Linked DNA regions of Homo sapiens. The protein of the gene in region 1 purifies or fractionates together with the protein of each later gene. This does not show direct contact. Each region holds a gene or a part of one and is shown on either strand. Other genes may lie near its edges.

Region 1 (3,649 bases):
ATGTTCAGGGAATGGGGTAGTTAAGTGACTTGTCCACAAATGCAATTAATGGAAGAGCTGGAACTTGAAGCCAAGTCTTCTGGCTCCTTAGTTCAGGTCTCTGTCTACCATTGCACAGCAGAAATATCTGCTTAGTTGGATTGACGATCAAGAGTCCACTCAGTAGTCTGTTGGGAGCTAGGTTATTGTAATGGGTGGCTTTCAGATGTATCAAATAGAAGACCCCCCCGCCCTGGAACTTCACAACCGCTTGTCTATCTTATCTAATAAACGTTAGTTTGGGTCCCTGCAGCTCTGAAATTGTTCATAACCAACACTATTTCTTTATTGAATAAGCACTTCATGAGCTTATGTTTGGCTGCACTGGCTGCCAACCTGTTAGGTTGAAGTATTGGCAGTTATAATTACACATATCCAGGGTGTGTGTTGTATCTGTGCTGGCTGAAAGGAAGGGGTTGCTGCAATTCACCAGTGTATCCAGTCTCACTGGAAAAAGCTTCTGTGCATGTATGTGTGGGGGTGGGAGGAAGAACAGAAAAGGGAACAGTGCCGCCCTAGCAAATCAAAAGTTTAAGATGCATGGACTGAGATGACATCATTGGCGGATTATCAGGGTTGCCTGCCCTGACTCTGAGATTCTAAGGGGAACAATTGATAGGACTTATCTCTGTATCAGATGGGAGAAGTCTGCGAAAAAAGGACTTCCTATGGTTCTTCTTTTTAATTGTGTATATTTGATATTGAGACTCTATAAAAGAAACTGATATAAAATACGGCTCCTCTTCCTAGTTCATCAAGTCATTCAGTGAATTAAGGGCCTGTTTCCTCTCCGCTTGCCCCTACCAGTCATTTCCTTGTCAGAAGTGTTGAACTCCCTTAGGCTCTATGCTGAGGACTAACACAGGGTCTGATACATTGTAGACCTTCAATAAATGAGTAGTGAATTAACTATGCCCTAGAAGTGACCAAGTGGGATGGGGAATAAGAGTGGGACAAGGAGAATGAATGGTATTTCTTTGGGCATTTCAAACTCCACCTTCTAGGTGGTTCCAGCTTGCTGCAGACCGCCCCTCCAGTCAAAAATTTCTTTTTTTTTTTTTGGAAGAAGTATTGCTCTGTCGCCCAAGTTGGAGTGCAGTGACGCAATCTCGGCTCACTGCAACCTCCACCTCCCGGGTTCAAGCGATTCTCCTGCCTCAGCCTTCCGAGTAGCTGGGATTACAGGTGCACGCCACCATGCCTGGCTAATTTTTGTATTTTCAGTAGAGACGGGGTTTCACTATGTTGACCAGGCTGGTCTCGAATTCCTGACCTCGTGATCCACCTGCCTTGGCCTTCCAAAGTGCTGGGATTACAGGCGTGAGCCACCACGCCCAGCCCCAGTCAAAAATTTCTACTTCCTCTGTTTCCCCTGTCCTTTCTGAGGTCCCCCTCCAACTTGACTGGCCAGGGTATAGAAGAGGGAGGAACGAGGAAGTGGGCAGGCAGGCAGTACAACTGAGGCAGATAGTCTGTTGGTGAATGCCACCTGTTTGAGAAAAACCTCTGTCAAACTTGGTTTTTCCTCTGCTCTCACACCACAACAACAACCCTCAACACAGAAGACTTCTGTGACCAAATGAGTGTGGGGAACCCCACACTCTGATAAATGGACACCAACTAGGTGTCCTCTGATTCAGTTCTGACACTGTCTACCTGGACATAATGTCAGACCAAGCCACAGGTTAAGGGCTTGGTCCCCAAGAATGGCCCCCAACCAGACACTAGTCACAAGTCCAGGCCTCCAGAACTTTTTTTTTTTTTTTTTTAAGACTGAGTCTCGCTCTGTGACCCGGGCTGGAGTGCAGTGCGTGATCTCGGCTCACTGCAACCTCTGCTTCCCGGATTCAAACTATTCTGCTGCCTCAGCCTCCTGAGTAACTGGGATTACAGGCGCCCGCCACCATGCCCAGCTAATTTTTGTAATTTTTTTACTAAAGAGAAGGTTTTGCCATGTTGGCCAGGCTGGTCTCGAACTCCTGACCTCAAGTGATCTGCCTGCCTCGGCCTCCCAAAGTGCTGGGATTACAGGCATGAGACGCCATGCCTAGCCAGGCCTCCAGAACTTCTGACCAACCAGCTTCAAGTTGGGGTTCCCACGACCCCCTCTTTGGGTTCGATTAATTTGCTAGTGCGGCTCACAGAACTCAGGGAAATAGTTAATGTTTACCAGTTAACTACAGAGGATACCACAAAGGATACAGAGAAGAGATGGGCAGGGTGAGGTAAGGGGCAGGGGGTGTGGAGCTTCCATGCCCTCCCTGGGCACGCCACCCTTCAGGAACCTCCACATGTTCAGCCATCCAGAAGGTTCCCAAACCCTGTCCTCTCGGGTTTTTATGGAAGATTTGTTACAGAGGCATGATTGACAACCATGTAGAAATGTGACTGGATGAAAAGCACATGATCTAAACCCAGCAAGGCCTGTCTGTTCAGACTTTTCTTGGCCTCTATGCAGCGTTCCTTTCTCTAGGGCAGAGGTGTCCAATCTTTTGGTTTCCCTGGGTCACACTGGAAGAAGAATTGTCGGGCCACACATAAAATACAATAACACTAACGATAGCTGATGAGCTAAAAAAAAAAAAATTGCAAAAAAATCTCATAATGTTTTAAGAAAGTTTGCAAATTGGTGTTGGGCCACATTCAAAGCCATCCCGGGCCACATGCGGCCTGTGGGCTGTGGGTTGGACAAGTTTGCTCTAGGGTATGGGGCAGGACCCTCTCTGGGATGAGGATCTTTTAACCCACAATCAGATTAGAGTCCTACCTTGGGCAGGTAAAAGGAGGGCAGGAGAAGGTCAAAGAGAGAAAGATTCTGTTTCCTGAGACCTAAAGTGCCCCAACATTATAACAAGGACTAGGGAAGTTAGGAGCCAGGAACCATGGGTGAAAACCAATGTATGTATCATAGCACCACATCACCTTTACTTCCCTGTATGTTTAAAAGCAGCTGATTAACTCAAATGACTGTTTCAGTTAATGCGGCTAAGGTAGGTTGACAAAATGAAGTCAAGACTCCTACAGCTTGAAGATGTTTTTAATCAGTGAGTGTTTACTTGAAAGCAAAAGAGCTAGCCTAGAACCCCTTAAATGCTTTCACCTGAATGCCCACTCTTATTTCTCATGCAGCAGCCCCTGGCCTATGGGCAACTGAAAGAACAGGAAATGCACCTCCTCACTGGAGGTTTGAAGGCTAAGGAACTGGGGATGCTCTCATTTTAAAAAGATAGGCCGGGCACAGTGGCTCACACCTGTAATCCCGGCACTTTGAGAGGCTGAGGCGGGCAGATCACTTGAGCCCAGGAGTTTGAGACCAGGCTAGCCAACATGGCGAAACCCTATCTCTACAAAAAAAAAAAAAAAAAAAAAAAAAATAGCCAGGCATGGTGGCGCACATCTGTAGTTTCAGCTACTCAGGAGGCTGAGGTGGGAGGATCTCTTGAGCCTGGGAGGTGGATGTTGCAGTGAGCCCAGATCATGCCACTGTACTTCTGCGTGGGCGATAGAGTGGCCACCGCACCCGGCCCAGAACTGGGCACTTTGGGAGGCCGAGCGGGGTGGATCACCTGAGGTCAGGAGTTCGAGACCAGTCTGGCCAACATGGTGAAAC
Region 2 (3,649 bases), on another chromosome or scaffold:
TGGTACTTTGAAAGTCAAGAGGGAATATTGAAAGGATGATTATAAATCAGTTCACATATTTATTTATTTATTTTAGAGACAGGGTCTTGCTGTGTTGCCCAGGCTGGAGTGCAGTGGCACAATCATGGCTCACTGCAGCCTCAAAATCATGGCTTACTGCAGCCTCATTGCTTCTGGGCTCAAGCAGTCCTCCTGCCTCAGCCTCCCCATGTGTTGGGATTACAGGCATGAGCCACCGTGTCCAGCCTCAATTCAAATATTTATTGAACTTCCACTGTGTTCTATGTTTGATGATGTGGAGAGATTTAACCGTTCATTCCTTTAAAAAGATTTTTTTTTTTTTTTGCTAAACCTTCCTGAGTGGCTTGTGCTAGATAAACTCCAAGTTCTATGCATCTCCAGGTTTTTATTTATTTACTTTTTTTTTTTTTTTTTTTTTTTAGATTTTTAGACGGAGTCTCGCTCTGTCCCCCAGGCTGGAGTGCAGTGGCGCAATCTTGGCTCACTGCAAGCTCCGCCTCCCGGGTTCACACCATTCTCCTCCCGAGTAGGTGGGACTACAGGCGCCTGCCACCACGCCCGGCTAATTTTTTGTATTTTTAGCAGAGATGGGGTTTCACCGTGTTAGCCAGGATGGTCTCAATCTCCTGACCTCGTGATCCGCCCGCCTCGGCCTCCCAAAGTGCTGGGATTACAGGCATGAGCCACCACACCTAGCCTATTAATTTACTTTTAAAGCTGGTCTTGAGTTCTTGCTGCCTAGTATGGAATAGGTTGAATCAATTATGGTTTAATTCAGTAAATATCATTGAGTATCCACTATTGTGCAGGCATTGGGCTGAGACGGAAATAAGTAAGCCAGCCTAACAGGCAACACAAAGGTGTAAGCAAATGCATTGCCCTGTGGTAATAATATCAGTGAAAGCATGTGTGGGGTACAGAGGTAGCAAAGAATGCAAGAGATTTTAATGCTGTCCAGTTGAGGGCAAGAAAACCTCTCTGGAAAAGATGACAATTAGGTTTTAAGGATAAATAGTAGTTTTCCTATTTAGGGGAGCCACTCCAGGTAGAGAAAACCTGGAGTAGTTTTCCATGCCTGAAAGAGCCTGGTGTGTTAAGACAGTTTCGAACAGTACTGCCAGAATATAGAGTGGGATGCCTGGGGAGGGGGTGCTAGGAAGCAGTAGGCATGCCTCTAGAGTGGGCCTGACGATCAGTTGGGAGTTGTAGGTAGCCAGTCCAAATGTTAGTTAATTAAATCGCTTTTTTTCTCCTCTCTGAATGCCTTGGGAGAGAAGAACCAGGATGAGAGAGAGAGATCATTGAAGTTGGAGATTAGTGGGCTTTTGGAAGGAAGCTTTGGACTTAAAAGATGATTAACAGGAGGTTTTTAGAGATTTGATAATAGTAAATTATTGGGAATGTGGTGCCTGATTTTCTAGTAGGGTCACCTGGCATAAAATGTTCCAAGCAGATGTTTTGAAGCAGTTGTATACCTGGGAAGGGCAGCATGCATGCGGTAGCAGCATCTCTGACAATAAGCTTGTTTCTGTCTCCCGATTCGCAGAAGACCACGTGGCCTTAAACCAACTGCTGCAACTCTGTGTGCAGGATGATTCTGTGGGCCCAAGTCACCCAGCGCCTATGCTGCAACCAAAAGTGCCTCCTGTCGCTTTGTATCAAAGGACCTTTGTCATGATCTCATTCACAATATTGGTGGTCCCTGAGAGTGGAGCAGTGGAGTGATTGACGTGCCTGAGTTTGAAGAGAGTTAACCACTGGAATCTCTCATGTTTTATTCCCTCCAAAATGCTGCAGTTCAGTGTTGTCCCAGATTTTATGCTTGTGCTTAGATTTCTCTGTTCTCTAATTTGTTAAGTTTGTCTTTAATATTTCACAGGCTTTCTTGATCATGGATGGTGAAGATATACCAGATTTTTCAAGTTTAAAGGAGGAAACTGCTTATTGGAAGGAACTTTCCTTGAAGTATAAGCAAAGGTAATGTTGGAAAGCACACTAAAAGTAGGGGAGGGCATTTGGAATACACCGTGTCTTGTTTGTGCATTTTTCTTTTTAACATAAAGCTAAATTTAGAATTGCAGATTTAGGATTCTAGGATTGAGATTCTACAAACAGTCACCACATGGGTTGTATTTAAATAGTGTAAACATGCCATAAGTCTTTATATTGTTCAAATTATTAAAATAGTAGGAAAACTGTCATTTATGATTTCTTCTGATTGTTACCTGTTCTATGCTTTTTAGTAGGCGGGGCCATCTTTGGCCCGTTTTGCATGCACTGATTCTGCCTCATCATTTTGGTCATTTGGAGATTCTGATAAGCTGTCTGGGGCTCCATAGAACAGACTTTACGTTCTCCTCAGGCAAGCATGATCAGTGTCTGGAGCCAGCAAAGCTTTGAGGGAGGGGGAGAAGCTTCAGGGGCATGGAACGTTTTATAAAATTTCAGTTATTTGGTTGGGAGAACTTTCAGGCAACAACCTTTTAAGCAACAAAACTTGTCTCAAATTTCTTTTTTAAAAATGGGATCTTGCTAAATAAAATATTGATACATTTTCCTATTTTGGTTAACAGAGTTTACTAAGTCTTATCAAACCTTTTACTGCCCTTTCATTATTATCACCGAAGTCAGTTATTCTATTGTGCCAGTGGATATGAAAGGTGTGTATCTATGGCAGGGTTCTTAATCTTTTTCTGTGTCATAGATGTCTTAATGGGCTGGGGTAGCCTGTGGACTCCTCAGCATAATATTTTTAAATGCATAGAATAATAGAATTACAAAGAAAATCAATTATATTGAAAAAAGTTATCTAAATATTAAACTAATTTATGGCATAGTAACATGTACTTCTCTATTAATGCATTAAATAAAAAAAGATACAGAAGTGAATGTAATAACTACCTAATTTTGAAATAGTCATGAAAATAAATATATTTAGAGATACATGCAACGATTCTATTGTGATGTGAAAATATGTGTGATTTCTGTTGAATATGGTAGAAGGAAATGCCAAATTTGTTACTTTAATGAAAGTAAAAATGCATTTTTCTCGCATCTGAGTTCTGTGGTGGAAGAAGCTAATGGTATTGAGCCACGTAGCCTTACTTTTCATAAATATTGTAATCACTGACTTGTGGCTCCTTTTTGGGCTTGTCGTTTTCATTGAACCCTGAATATATACAGTAAGAGATGCAAAACAGATTGTCTTTAGTATATTTTATGAGAGCATTAGCATTCAAGCAAAAATTATCGAATTGCTCTATAATCACCTCCAAGACAATCCTTGTGGTTCTTAGTGTAACTCGTCTTTCCCACTTTGTTTCTGATTAGCTTCCAGGAAGCTCGGGATGAGCTAGTTGAATTCCAGGAAGGAAGCAGAGAATTAGAAGCAGAGTTGGAGGCACAATTAGTACAGGCTGAACAAAGAAATAGAGACTTGCAGGCTGATAACCAAAGACTGAAATATGAAGTGGAGGCATTAAAGGTAATTGCAGCAGTAGACGCTGGGGTCTAATGTGTTGAGTTTTATTAAAATGAGAAATATGTTTTTCAGGTGCTTAAGAGCAGCTGGCGACAAAAAATAGTTTGAAAAAAACGCTTAAAGTGAATTTTTGAATAAAATGTTTTC
Region 3 (3,649 bases), on another chromosome or scaffold:
TCCACCAATAAGAATTCCTGGTTAGCGGCACTCCACCAATCACAACCCCTGGTTAGCTCCTATTCCACCAATCAGAAGCCTTGGTTAGAATGCATTCTATTAAAGGACTCTGTCGGCGGGTACTTCCAGGGCAATTTAGGTGAGTTATATTTGAGGGTCTTGGTGGCAGATTCAGGTCCCACGAGGAACTGTACCTTTTGGGGGGAAATTTGCTTTCTTGGATTTAAGAAAGTGCTTAACCTAAGTTAAGCACTAGGTTAGCCAGCAGCTGGTTTCTGAGCCAGGAGACTGGGCTGATGGCTTTGGAGAGGAAGGAGGCAGGATGGAGCATTGGAGAAGCTGGGCCGGCAGATTCTGATGCAGAGGAGGAGGCGACACAGGCCCCTGATCCCAGCCCCAGCTCCTCTTCCTTGTGAGAACTTCCGGCTGGGGTTTTCGGGACTGGGGTCTGGTGGTCTCCTTTGGTCTCCCAGTTAGTGGGCTGCCTTGCGGGGAAGGGACGGAAGAGGCTGAGGGTCAGCTCCCAAGAGCAGAGGAGTTGGTGGGACTTGGGCCGGGAGGTGCAGAAGGGTGCATCTGGCTGCACCCTGCCCTGCCCAGCTGCTGGGTGTGACCTTGGGCAAGTCACCTCACTTGTGGGCTTGTGTTCAGAGGGGCAGGGGTGATGGCTGAGCTTGCAGTCACACACCCGCTTCTGATAAGTGGCGGGCTGTGTGAACTAGCAGTCAGTAGAGGCGCTTCAGTGGGTTGGCATCTGCAGGTTGCTGTTGTGCCAGGTCTGGCTACTTGACCTTGGGATCATCACCTTCCTTCCCACGACCCTGCATTGCTTGCTCACTGTAATCTCGGCCACCCCACTGGGTTTTGTGAGAATCAGGCAGGGAAAAATGTCAACGAGGTCTGTGAATAATAAAAAGAGTTACACGATTACAGCGATTTCCGAATGCCTGGTCCTTTTTTTTTTTTTTTTTTTTTTTTTTTGAGACAAGGTCTCACTCTGTTGCCCAGGCTGGAGTACAGTGACATGATCACAGCTCACTGCAGCCTCAACCTCCTGGGCTTATTACATCCTCCCACCTTAGCCTCCTCAGTTGCTGGAACAATAGGGACACTCCACCATGCCTGGCTGATTAATTTTTTCTAGTGATGGGGTCTCACTATGTTGCCCAGGCTGGTCTTGAACTCTGGGGCTCAAGCGATCCTCCTACTTTGGCCTCCCAAAGTGCTAGGATTATAGGTGTGAGCCACTGTGCCCGGCCTAGTCTTCTCTTTTACAGGGATAACTGTCACCTGCCAGTTGGGGCATCTGGCTCTGTGGGCCGGTCAGAGCTCATTCTGCCCTATGGCCTGACACCTGCTCTGGGGTCAGGGTTCACGCCCAGCGCTTGCTGCAGCTGGACCCTACCCAAACCTCTGTGCCCCCCTCTTTACATGGGAGTCTTCAGGCCACCTGACTCAGGAACATTGTGACAATTCAGTGAGAAAATTCTCGCCAAAAACTTAAAAAAAAAAATGTATCCCTCTGTTGTGGACCCTCCAGGAGGGCCAGCTCTCAGGTGGCCCAAGGCTGGACTTGGTGCTCCCTTTTCACCCCCTAGTCAGCTCTGGCTTTTGGGCATTGCCAGGAGGGACCCAGGGGCTGGGTGGGCAGGGGTCTCTCCCCACATCTCTCCTGAGGGGGATGGTGATGCCTCAAGATTGCACTTACCTTGTGTTGTGGCTTCCTATGGACATCTCTTCCCACCTCTTACCTCCAAAGAGCCCCAGCTTTAAGCCACCCACTGCAGAGCAGTCCTGGTCCCCTTGGCCTGCTGGCCTCTCAGACATGGTATGGTCTGAGTTTGTGCCAGGCCTGGGAGCCTGGACTCCGCCCTAAGGCTGGGCCACACACAGCCGTGCAGCAGGCCTGCTCCAGTCCCCCTATCACCTCCACTTCAGGGCAGGGGAACCGGGAGAAGTGAGAGCACTGACATCCAGCTGACCGACCCTAAAACCATCCCCTCTCTGCCCTGCACCCTAAAGTCTCATGGAAAGTGGGGGGCCCGGGCCCCTTTTGCAGTGCGGACATTTCAAGACCCTGTAAGAGACTTGTACCCTGGGTGCAGGCCCTGGGCCTTTGGGTCCTGATGGAGGAGGGGGCTTGGCTTGATGAGGACGGAAGGAGGCTGATTTGCATCCAGACTTCCGGCGTTGGACACCTCTCTATTGGGAGAGGAAGCCGAGGCCGGGGAAGGGGCAGCGATGCGTCCAGGGTCCCACAGGGAGCCAAGGCTGGACAGATGGGCAGGCTGGGTGGGGCCAGGAAGGCCACGGCTGTTTCCAGCTGTTGCAGATGTGCTGCCTCCGGGGTCCGTGCAAACTCCTTTCCGCCTGCAGGCTGGCGAAGGGGCCAGGGCACACAGCAGGGGAGTTAGACTTGGCAGCCCCTTGACCCCAGACTGCCTTCATCAATGGAGCAGGAGCTGCCCAGAACCCTTTTCCTGTTCTCCCACATTCAGGGGCATGAGCCCCCTTGGCCCAGTCCTGGAACAGGGCACCCCGGGAGGGCCCCTCAGGAAGAGGCCGGGGCTGCGGCTTCGGGTGGGGCCGGCAGCCTCTGCTGAGAGCCCAGCATCTGGAAGCCATCAGGCCAGGGGCGGGGGGAGTTGCAGGGGAGGTCCAGGGAGGGGGACATGCCTCCTCCAGGCCACACACAAGCCCAACCCTCGGGAGCGTGGCCTTGGGCCCACAACCGCTGCCTCTGCACCCTGGCCCGCAGCCCCGCCCCCTGGCGCACACGCCCCGCCCTCGTCCGAAGCCACGCCCCCAGCCAGCAGCCACGCCCTCTTCCCCCAGGCTGCCTTCTCACCGCACTGGCCACTGCTCCTGCAAGGGTCAGCAGCGCTCCCCACAGCATGGTGGGAGCCTCGCTTCTCCGGCGCAGGGTGGGTCTATCTCTTGGAGTGGGTGGGCTGTGGGGAGCCGTGTCCCCAGGGGTTGTTGGCTTGGTGTCTTTTTGGGGAGTGAGTGGTACTTGTCTTCTGTGAAGTCTTAGCCTAGCGGGGCTGGGGCTTGTGGTGGGAGGCGTGGCCGTGAGGGTAGGAAGGGAGTGGGGACGTCTTCCTCAGTCCTGGGGTGGCAAAGCCTGAGACGCTGAAGAGGCGCTCCAGGTGCCTAGCAAATCACTCAGAAGTGTTCCAGGAGCGGGGACAGCGTCCCTGAATGTCGTCTGCATCCCGCGTGCATCAGAATCACACCACGCACGTTTCTGGGCCCCACCGGGCCTGCTAGTCAGACGCTGGGGCCAGCACCCGTCGTCTGCATAGTTTCTAAGCTCTTGGATGTTTTGATGCTCAGACACACTGGGAATTCTGTTCCGGAGGAGAGACTGCTCCCTGTGAGGAAAGCCAGGGAGGGGATGGGTTTTTGTTGTTGTTGTTGAGACAAGGTCTTGCTCTGTTGCCCAGACTGAAGTGCAGTGGCGTGATCATAGCTCACTGCAGCCTCCAACTCCTGGGCTCAAGCGATCCTCCCACTTCAGCCTCCTGAGTAGCTGGGACTACAGGCATGCACCACCACACCTGGCTAATTTTATTTTTTTGTAGAGACAGGGTCTCACTACGTTGCCTAGGCTGATCTCAAACTCTTAGGCTCAATGATCCTTGGCCTT

Evidence for each region.
Region 2: the proteins of SLC25A43 (region 1) and NDEL1 purify together in Homo sapiens (affinity purification with mass spectrometry; 2 studies listed by BioGRID and IntAct, with this or other methods). This does not show direct contact.
Region 3: the proteins of SLC25A43 (region 1) and TFAP4 purify together in Homo sapiens (affinity purification with mass spectrometry; one large-scale study listed by BioGRID and IntAct). This does not show direct contact.

The regions. Positions count from the first base shown.
Region 1 is NC_000023.11:119,402,209-119,405,857, forward strand, and holds part of SLC25A43 (solute carrier family 25 member 43), read left to right. Parts: intron 1-3,649.
Region 2 is NC_000017.11:8,442,360-8,446,008, forward strand, and holds part of NDEL1 (nuclear distribution protein nudE-like 1), read left to right. Parts: intron 1-1,567; exon of another isoform or gene 1,568-1,790; coding exon of another isoform or gene 1,791-1,817; intron 1,818-1,900; coding exon of another isoform or gene 1,901-1,912; coding exon 1,913-1,998; intron 1,999-3,351; coding exon 3,352-3,505; intron 3,506-3,649. UniProt on the Homo sapiens protein: Required for organization of the cellular microtubule array and microtubule anchoring at the centrosome. May regulate microtubule organization at least in part by targeting the microtubule severing protein KATNA1 to the centrosome.
Region 3 is NC_000016.10:4,262,942-4,266,590, reverse strand, and holds part of TFAP4 (transcription factor AP-4), read left to right. Parts: exon of another isoform or gene 1-89; coding exon of another isoform or gene 90-139; exon of another isoform or gene 140-900; intron 901-1,708; exon of another isoform or gene 1,709-2,241; coding exon of another isoform or gene 2,242-2,924; intron 2,925-3,649.